Linked DNA regions of Homo sapiens: region 2 is linked to region 1. Evidence: fine-mapped expression QTL. A gene starts in region 1. The other region holds a variant in brackets. All regions are shown on one strand. Distances are from middle to middle. Region 1 holds the start of CDC42SE2 (CDC42 small effector 2). Region 2 has its middle 21 kb from the start of IL3.

What was found. PIP is the estimated chance that this variant, and not a neighbour inherited with it, causes the effect. A credible set is the group of variants that fine-mapping cannot tell apart.
Region 2: its variant is the best candidate, but not a certain one, in a credible set for the expression of CDC42SE2 in whole blood (INTERVAL, PIP 0.63).

The regions. Positions count from the first base shown.
Region 1 is chr5:131,261,234-131,266,615 of GRCh38, reverse strand. It overlaps CDC42SE2 (CDC42 small effector 2), which reads right to left and starts at 2,563. Exons shown (of 5, transcript NM_001375635.1): 1 at 2,450-2,563. RefSeq lists enhancers at 1,284-2,101, 3,230-3,279 and silencers at 2,300-2,949, 2,980-3,029, 3,040-3,109.
Region 2 is chr5:132,036,680-132,042,061 of GRCh38, reverse strand. No RefSeq gene overlaps it. Among named protein-coding and RNA genes, the nearest start is that of IL3, 21 kb to the left of the region's middle. The variant G/AG (reference allele first, on the strand shown) is at 2,873.

The DNA.
Region 1 (5,382 bases):
TAGTGGCGCATGTCTGTAATCCCAGCTACATGGGAGGCTGAGGCATGAGAATAGCTCGAGCCCCAAAGGCGGAGGTTGCAGTAAGCCGAGATCACACCGCTGCACTCTAGCCTGGGTGACAGAGCGAGACTTCGTCTCGAAAAAAAAAAAAAAAAGAAAAAAAAAAGCTAATAGCCGGTAAGTCCAAAATCTGAAACTTCTATTTGAATGTAAACATTATCTTTAACAATGTATTAAGTATTATAAGCATTAACAGTCAAAACAGCCCACTTAAATACAAAAAAGCTAACTATAAAAAAATTAATATCTACATTATTTCATAATAATCAAGACAGACTTTGGATCACATTAGTCTGGATTCCTGAAATAAATAAAATATTACTGCTTTTTAAACATATATAAATAGATTAAAATAGGCAACGCAACCTTATGTTCAGAATAAATGCAAAACTACAAATCTCATCCTTTTAAATTAGTAGTTTTATCACAGTTGCAATACTAAAAGATAAGTCCACATATGGAACCACAAATTATTACTAATAATCCTTCCCTTTTTAGCACTATCAAGTTTATATGCATTTATTTGTAAGTGGTGAACACAAGGACAAAATAAAATTCCTGAAATGAAGCTTTATTTTAAAACATTTCTTATAGAAAAGGAATCTACTGTTTATCTCTGGGGATTTTTAAAAACAGAAAATGTTATTACAAAGATTATTTACAGAAAACAGGACCAGAAGTACATTACCCTTCAATACACTGTACCAAAGTCTCCTAATAGGGACCAGGGAGATAATAAAAACACTAGCTTATTAAATGTCTTCCTCCCTTCATTTTAAAATGTAGACAGATTCTATTAAACTGACAATATAAAAGCTTAACCCAATAATTTTAGCTGTACAAAGTTACTTATTAACCTTTAAAGGCTGTTATGAATTTACACTTCCTGCAGTTCACCTGCCATCTTTCCCAACTGAAATAGCCACTAGGGGTTTAAGACAGTCACCACTTGCGACATCAATAATAAGGAAATAACTTTGCATTCAAGTTTAAGAAAAGGATAATTGCGGATTTTGCCTGTGCCCATAAACAGGTGCTTAATGAATATCTGTTGAGTAAATGGTGACATTTTATTATATTAGTGCAACATTAGCTTTTCCCCCCCTAAATTTAGAGTTCTCCCTTGCTCAAAAAGCAGCAAGACCATACCACAGTCCCTTCTCAAAAACACATAAACTCCTTTATTCATAATGAAACAGAAAGCTGGGTTTCAAAATACAATCCCACTCCCTCTTTATCTTCTCCATTATTTTTAAAGATTAGAAATAAGGCCTGTTTTTAAGAAACAGAAAATGTATACCAACTTCTCTCAAACCAAAAGAGAAAATCCAAATTTGATATATATTTTCTATGTTCATAATATTGAGAGTAAGAACGGACTGTTCATCAACAGTATGTTATGTGGGACAAAAACTAAAAAACGTATATCAAAAATACATACTGTTTGCCGACATTCTTTCCTTAATCATAATCAAGGAGTATGTGCCTAAATTTTACTAGATGTGAGATAAGCTTTGTCTGATATTTCAAGATTCATTCATTCAACAAATACTTTACTGAGCACGTACTATAAGCCAGGCCCTTCAACGAAACATTTAGATTTTGTAAACTGCACATCACCCCCCAAAATTCCCCTAAAAAAGCTTATCATTTAAAATAATTGCAAGCTAAAGAGGAATCCCCAATGTTGTTTCTTACACATAGTGAAGTCAGCGGATCGGGGCGCTTTTTCAGCTGTTAATGCGGCATCAAGGAGCCGCTACCTACCACACCCGTTGCCTAAAATCGCAACTTAAAGCTGCAAGCACTGGGTAAAACAACCTGTAAGAGTAGCTCAGCTCCCGCGACGAGGTAGCCAAGGGCTTTCAAGCCCGGGGCCCGGGGCGAACCGCGGCAGGACCCGCGGACTGAACGCGTCGGGCGCCTCAGGCGAAGAGTCGGAGCTCCGGAGCCAGGTGTCTTTGCTCCCCGAAACCCTCACCTAGAGACCCCGGGCCCTCCCCGCCCGCCCCTCGCACCACCCTCCCGACTTCCAGACGTGAAAAGTTGGGGGGAGGGGGGGGGTCTGCCTTTCCATTTTACATCAGGCGGTCAGTTGGCTGCCTCAGCTGTCCGCCTGCCGTGAATTCTGAACTGAGCGTGTAACCATTCCTCAGAGGAAACAGAAGAAAAACCAAAGGCAGGGTCCTAGGGCATGAGGACCTCGCCCAAACCTGAAATGGAAGACGCAGGCTCAGCCCACAGCCCGCAGCGCGCGGCTGGCAAGGCCGGGCCGCGCTCACCCCAGAGCCCTCAGGGACGAGGGTTCGGGGCTTCGGGACCCCGCCCAAGGGACCGAGAGGGCGAGGCGTGGCGGCCGACGCGCGACTGGGGCTGGCATTGCACTCACCGTCGCCTTTGTCTCAGCCGCCCGCTCCGGCCGCAGCCCCTCTCAGCGCCGGCTCCGCGGCTCCTGCCGCCCCAACGCCTGCAGCTGCGCTCCCCAGCGCGCTCGCAGCTTCCTGGCTCCCCCTCCCCGCCCAGGCTCGCGCGCGGGTTGGGCGGAGCGAGAGGCGGCGCGCGCCCCTAGAGCGGCCGGAGGGGCGGGCGCCGTTGCGCAGCTGCAGCGACCGCAGTGCTGGCCCCGCCCCCCGCCAGGCCCCGCCCCCGCCGTACCTCCGGCATGGGCGAATCGGCCGGCAGGCGATGGGACCCCCGGGATTCGAGCCGCGCGGGTTAGGAATTGGCCTCTGTAGCTAACGGACGCCTGAGATCCGGGACTGCAGCACTCGCGGGAAAGGACGCTCCGAAAGATGGCGACCAAACCTGGGCGGGAGCGTGGGGGAGCCCCTTCCCACCCCGGCCCGGGCCGCGGACATCCGTGCGGAGGAGCGACGTCTGCGCACGTTGTGGGGCGGTGGACGCGCACAGGCGAGGGTGGGTGGGTGGGTGCTGAGCGGTTGTGGGATGAGGGGTCTCTCAGTAGCGGTTGAGAGCCCATCCTCTGACCACTGCTTTTTCATGTAAAAGTCAGAATCGTTCAATCAGTCATTAACTGGTTTAAGGCTGGCTAAACCACCTGGTTTGAAATGCGTGAAAATTACACATGTACTAGACTTCTGTGATTCCTTTGGGTGTGTATTTTACATATCTCAGAAATCAGAAACATGAGTGCCCTATCTAGCAGCCAGCAGTCCACCAAAATGCCTACAAAACTTTATCGTAAGTTCAAAAGGATAGCGTAATGCCACTGAAGTAAGCTCTCGAACCTGTAAGTAATGTATGGTCTTCCCCATTCTAGGTTGATGGCGAGGATTTCTAGTTACTCAGGCCAAAAACTTTATATCATCCATAACTCCTCTCATACTCTCATTTTCACTTTCAATCTGTCAAGAAAGCTTGTTGGTTGTACCTTCAAAATAGAACAGAGTGGGCAACATAGCGAGACCCTGTCTCTACAAAAAAAAAAAAAAAAAATTACCCTGGTGTGTTGGCGTGTACCTATAGTTCCAGGTACTCTGGAGGCTGAGGCCAGGAGTTACGTTACAGTGAGCCATCATCAGGCCACTGCACTCCAGCTTGGGCTGGACAGAGTGACACGTGTTCCAAAAAAAAAAAAAATTCTCCATCTTTCCTACCTTACTATTTTTCCTTTCATCCCATGACACTTCCCACCTTGTAACAATCTTTATAATTCAGAGTCAGCCCTCCGCATCCATGGCTTCTGCGTTTCTGGATTCAACCAACCACAGATGGAAAATATTTGGGAAAAAAAACACAACAATTTAAAAATACAAATAAAAACCAATACAATATAACAGCTATTTACATAGCACTTACATTGTATTATAAGTAATCTATAGATAATTTATACAGGAGGATATATGTGGGTTATGTGCAAATACTATATCATTTTATATTAGAGACCTGAGAGGATTTTGGTACTGGTCGTGGTCCTAGAGCCAATCCCCCTCGGATACTGAGGTATGCCTGTATTTATCTGATATGTTTAGCTTTTAGTGTCTGCCTTCCCTAGTAGAAGCTGGGATTTTTGTCTGTTTTGTTCAACTGATGTATCCCAAGTCCCTAGAATAAATGAAAAATTTAAAAATTCCCTGAGATTAAAAAAAACTAAAGCAACAAAAAATGACCAATTTTTTTTATTTTAAATTTTCTCTTGGTTTCTGTTTCAGTTAACCATAAGATCTTTATCTACATCATACCATAAGCATTTTGATTTTCCAGTTACTGTGAGTACAGTGATGACCATTTACTTGACTTTTAATGCAGTTTTTTGACCAATGATACGCTACAATCCTATTTCACTGAATGAGAATAACATGATAGAGTAGAGGAAGGTTACATAAAGACTATTAATTCTAAAAATTTCCTAGAACAAAAAAAAAAAACCAGAAAATTCCCGAACTTGATATATGTGCTTGTAAGCCTCCCTTTGAATTACAAATGTAGTAACCTTGTGTGAATGCCTTAAGTAGTAAATTTTCTATCATTTACCTATAAAGGGTAGTATTCATTATGTAAACATTTATTTTCAGATTTTTCATATTTTGTAACAAAACATTACGTGATTGAATACCATGATCTAATTTCAGTTGCTATAGCTATTCATGCACCCTTCTCATCAGTTAAAAAAAAAAAAAAAGTCAATTAAGGACACAATGCCATTCAGTTGAATGACACTTTTTTTTTTTTTTTTTGAGACAGGGTCTCACTTTGTCACCCAGGCTGGAGTGCAGTGGCCTAATCTGTGCTATCTCGGCTCTCTGCAACCTCTGTCTTCCGGGCTCAAGTGATCCTCCCACCTCAGCCTCCCAAGGAGCTAGGACTACAAACGCACACTACTACACCTAGCTAATTTTTGTGTTTTTGGTAGACAGGGTCTCACTATGTTGCCCAGGCTGGTCTGAAACTCCCAGGCTCACACAATCCGCCCTCCTCGCCTCACAAAGTGCTGGGATTACAGGTGTAAGCCACGGTGTCTGGTCTGGATGATACTTTTTGTAGAGTATGTGTGCATAATTATTTGCTCAATGTTATATTCATAGCAGTCTCTTTACACATTTAATTTATCCTTTATGATTTAAAACAATTTAAAGCTACAGATTACATGTTACAATTTGATTTTTTATAAAATTAAATAGACTTTTGTTTATAAAAAAATTGACAATGTGTTTCATCAATGTTAATCTGTAGTTTGTAATTACAATAATACCAAATAAAATTTTTCTAGAGTCATTATGATGTATCTGTGCACTGTCCTTAAAATTGTTACCAAGTAAAATCTTATTCCAAAAGAAGGACAAGGGTAAAAAATAGACACTC
Region 2 (5,382 bases), 780 kb before region 1:
CACAAAGGGGAGCCCATCAGACTAATAGAACTCTCAGCACAAGCCAGAAGAGATTGGGGGGCAATATTCAACATTCTTAACAAAAAGAATTTCCAACCCAGAATTTCATATCCAGCCAAACTAAGCTTCATAAGTGAAGGAGAAATAAAATACTTTACAGACAAGCAAGGGAAGTCATTACTGTCAGACCTGCTTTACAAGAGCCCCTGAAGGAAGCACTAAATATGGAAAGTAAAGACCACTGCCAGCCACTACAAAAACACACTGAAGTACACAGATCACTGGCCCTATAAAGCAACCACATAAACAAGTCTGCAAAATAACCAGCTAATACCATGATGACAATATCAAATCCACACATATCAATACAACCTTAAATGTAAATGGGCTAAGTTCCCTAATTAAAAGACACAGAGTGGCAAGCTGGATAAAGAACCAAGACTCATTGGTATACCATCTTCAAGAGACCCATCTCACATGCAGTGACACACATAGGCTCAAAATAAAGGGATGGAGGAAAATCCTATCAAGCAAATGGAAAACAAAAAAGCAGGGGTTGCAGTCCTAGTTTCTGACAAAACAGACTTTAAACCAACAAAGATCAAAGAGGATAAAGAAAGGCATTACATAATGGTAAAGGGTTTGATTCAACAGGAAGATATAACTAGCCTAAGTACATATATGCACCCAGTACAAGAGCACTCAGATTCATAAAGCAAGTTCTTAGAGATCTTCAAAGAAATATAGACTCCCACATAATAATAGTGGGAGATTTTAACACCCCACTGACAATATTGGACAGATCATTCAAGACAGAAAATTAACAAAGATATTTAGGACCTGAACTTGGGACTGAATCAAGTGGACCTCATAGATATCTACACAACTCTCCACCCCGAAACAGTAGAAAATACATTCTTCTCATTGTCACATGGCACTTACTCTAAAATCAATCACATAATTGGAAGTAAAACACTCCTCAGCAAATGCAAAAGAACTGAAATAATAACAAACAGACTCTCAGACCACAGCACGATCAAATTAGAAACCAAGACTAAGAAATTCACTCAAAACCATATAATTACATGGAAATGGAATAACCTGCTCCTGAATGACTTTTGGATAAATAATGAAATTAAGGCAGAAATCAAGAAGTTCTTTGAAACAAAGACACATACCAGAATCTCTGTGACACAGCTAAAGCACTGTTAAGAGGAAAAAATGTCCTCATCAAAAAGTTAGAAGGATCTAAAGTTAATAACCTAACATCACAATTAAAAGAGTTAGAGAACCAAGAGCAAACAAATCTGAAAGCTAGCAGAAGACAAGAAATAACCCAAATCAGAGCTGAGCTGAAGGAGATAGAGACATGAAAAAAAACATTCAGAAGATCAACGAACCCAGGAGCTGGCTTTTGGAAAAAATTAATAAAATAGATAAACTGCTAGATAGACTAATAGGGAAGAAAATGGAGAAGATTCAAATAAACACAATCAGAAATGATAAAGAGGATATCACCACTGACTCCACAGAAATATAGACAACTATCCGAGAATATTATGAACACCTCTATGCACATAAGCTAGAAAATCTAGAAGAAATGGATAAATTCCTGGACACATGCACCCTCCCAAGACTGAACAAGGAAGAAATTGAATCCCTGAACAGATCAATACAAGTTCTGAAATTGAGGCAGTAATAAATAGCCGATCAACCAAAAAAAAGCCCAGGACCAGATAGATTCACAGTTAAATTCTACCAGATGTACAAAGAATATATGGTACTGTTCCTACTGAAACTATTCCAAAAAATCAAAATGGAGACTCCCCGCTAACTCATTCTATGAGGCCAGCATCATCCTGCTACCAAAACCTGGCAGAGACACAATAAAAAAAAGAAAATTTCAGGCCAGTATCCTTGATGAACATCAATACAAAAATCCTCAAAAAAAATACTGGTAAACAGAATCCAACAGCACATCAAAAAGCTAGTCCACCATGATCAAGTAGGCTTTATCCCTGGGATGCAAGTTTGGTTCAGCATATACAAATCAATAAATTTGATGCATCACATAAACAGAACTAAAGATAAAAACCACATGATTGTCTCAATAGATGCAGAAAATGCTTTATATAAAATTCAACATCCATTCATGCTAAAAACTCTCAATAAACTAGGTATCGAAGGAACATACCTCAAAATAATAAGAGCCATCTATGGCAAACCCACAGCCAACATCATACTGAATGGGCAAAATCTGGAAGCATTCCCCTTGAAAACTGGCACAAGACAAGGAGGCCCTCTCTCACCACTCCTATTCAACATAGTATTGGAAGTTCTGGCCAAGACAATCAGGCAATAGAAAGAAATAAAGTGCATTGAAATAGGAAGAGAGGAAGTCAAACTATTGCTGTTTGGAGGTGACATGATCCTATACCTAGAAAATCCCATCATCTCAGCCCCAAAGCTTCTTAAGCTGATAAGCAACTTCAGCAAAGTCTCAAGATACAAAATCAATGTGCAAAAATCACTAGCATTTTTATTCACCAACAACATTCAAGCCAAGAGCCAAATTATGAGCAAACTCCCATTCACAATTCCCACAAAAAGAATAAACTACCTAGGAACATAGCTAACTAGGGAGGTAAAAGATCTTGACAAGAACTACAAACCACTGCTGAAAAATCAGAGATGACACAAACAAATGAAAAAAAATTCCATACTCATGAATAGGAAGAATCAATTTTATTAAAATGGTCATACTGCCTAAAGCAATCTATAGATTCAATACTATTTCCATTAAACTACTGTTGACATTCTTCACAGAACTAGAAAAAAAAAATTTAAAATTTATATGGAACAAAAAAAAAAA[G/AG]AGTCTTAATAACCAAGGCAATTCTAAGCAAAAAGAACAAAGCTGGAGGTATCACACTACCTGACTCCAAACTATACTCCAGGGCTATGGTAACCAAAATAGTATGGCACTGGTACTAGGACAGACACGTAGACCAATGGAACAGAATCAAGAACCCAGAAATAAGACCACATGCCTACAACCATCTGATCTTTGACAAAGTCAACAAAAACAAGCAATGGGGAAAGCATTCCCTATTCAATGTATGGTGATGGGATAAGTGGCTAGCCACATGCAGAAGATTGAAACTGGACCCCTTTCTTACACCATATACAAAAATTACCTCAAGATGGATTAAAGACTTAAATGTAAAATCCCAAACTATAAAAACCCTGGGAGACAATGTTAGGCCATACCATTCAGGACATAGGCACAGACAAAGATTTCATGATGAAGATGCCAAAAGCAATTGCAACAAAAGCAAAAATGGACAAATGGGATCTAATTAAACTTAGCTTCAGCACAGCAAAAGAAACTATCAGCAGAGTCAACAGACAACCTACAGAATGGGAGAAAATTTTTGCCAACAAAGGTCTCATATCCAGCATTTATAAGGAACTTAACAAATTTACAAGAAAAAAAAAACCCCATAAAAAATGGTCAAAGGACATGAACTTTTCAAAAGAAGGCATACATGCAGCCAATAATCATATGAAAAAAAGCTCAGCATCACTGATAATTAGAGAAATGCAAATCAAATAAAAACCACAATGAGATACCATCTAACAACAGTCAGAATGACTACTATTAGAAAGTCAAAAAATCACAGATGCTGGTGAGGTTGTGGAGAAAAAGGAATGCTTATACATTATAGGTGGGAGTGTAAATTAGTTCAGCCATTGTGGAAGACAGAGTGGCAATTGCTCAAAGACCTAAAGACAGAAATACCATTTGACCCAGCAATCCCATTACTGGATATATACCCAAAGGAATATAAATCATATTATAAAGACATATGCATGCGTATGTTCATTGCAGCATTTTTCACAATAGCAAAGACAAGGAATCAACATAAATGTCCATCAATGAGAGACTGGATAAAGAATATGTGGTACATATACACCATTGAATACTATGCAGCCATAAAAAAGAACAAGATCATGTCTTTTGCAGGGACATGGCTAGAGCTGGAGGCCATTATCCTTAGCAAGCTAACACAGGAACAGAAAACCAAATATCACGTGGTCTTATTTAGAAGTGGGAGCTAAATGATAACACATGGACACAAAGAGGGGAACACATTGCAGCCTTTCGGAGAGTGGAGGGTGAAAGGAGGGAGAGGATCAGCAAAAAGCACTAATGAATACTAGGCTTAATACCTGGGTGATGACATAATCTGTACAACAAACCCCCATGACACAAGTTTACCTATGTAACAAACCTGCACTTGTATCCCAGAATTTAAAATGAAAGTTAAAAAAATAGGTACTGATTTTGTTTTGTTTAGGAATTCCTTCTCTACCTTGAGATGATGATATTTTCTTGTATAGTATCTTAAAAACTCTATAGTCTTTTCTTTCACATCTATGTCTTTAATTGACCTGGAATTGCATGAGGCAGGGCTCTGGTTTAGCTGTTTCCATATTAATACTCATTTGTTCCAGCATATTTTTTGCAAAGACTTCTTTTCCTGCTGATTTGCATTGCTGACTCTTATATTTCACGGGTTCATAGATACGTGGGTGTGGGTCTTTCTCTGGGTTTTCTATTATGTTCCATTGCTCTATTTGTCTCTCCTTAAACTAATATCACATTGTCTTAAATATTCTAACTTTATAATACATCTTGGTATCTACAAGAGCAAGTTCTCCCACCTTGTTCTTTTTCTTTAAGAATGTCTTGGCTATTCTTTATCCATATTCATTTTAAACTAGCTTGTCAACTTTTCCCACCACACCCCAAAATGCTGGGACTTTGAGATTGCACTGATTCTATAAATCAATTTCAGTAGAATGACATCTTTACAATATTGAGACTTCTAGTTAACAAACACAGTATTTTCACTTTGTGTGTTTGTGTGTGTGTGTGTGTCTCCCAATAAAGTTTAAAATTTTCTTAATAGAGAACTTTTGTTATATTTATTCCTAGGAACTTGGCATTTTGGCATTATATTAAAAAAGGCAACTTCTTTTAAAATATCATGTTAATAAATGTCTTTTTCTGGTATAAAGAAATGCAATTGATTTTTATGGACTGATTTTGTATCCAGCAAACTTGCTAAACTCTCTTATCAATACTAAAATCTTATCTATAGATCCTTTTGAATTTTCTACATATACAAATGCATCACCTATGAGTAGTGACAGATTTTCTTCTATTTTTCTTAGTTTTCTATCTTTTATTTATTTTTCTTTCCTTACTACACAGACTGGGATATCTTGTAGAATGCTGAATAAAAGTAATAACATCAGGCATCCTTGTTATAGATCTCAAAGGGAAAGATTTCATCATTTTACCATTAAGCATGATGT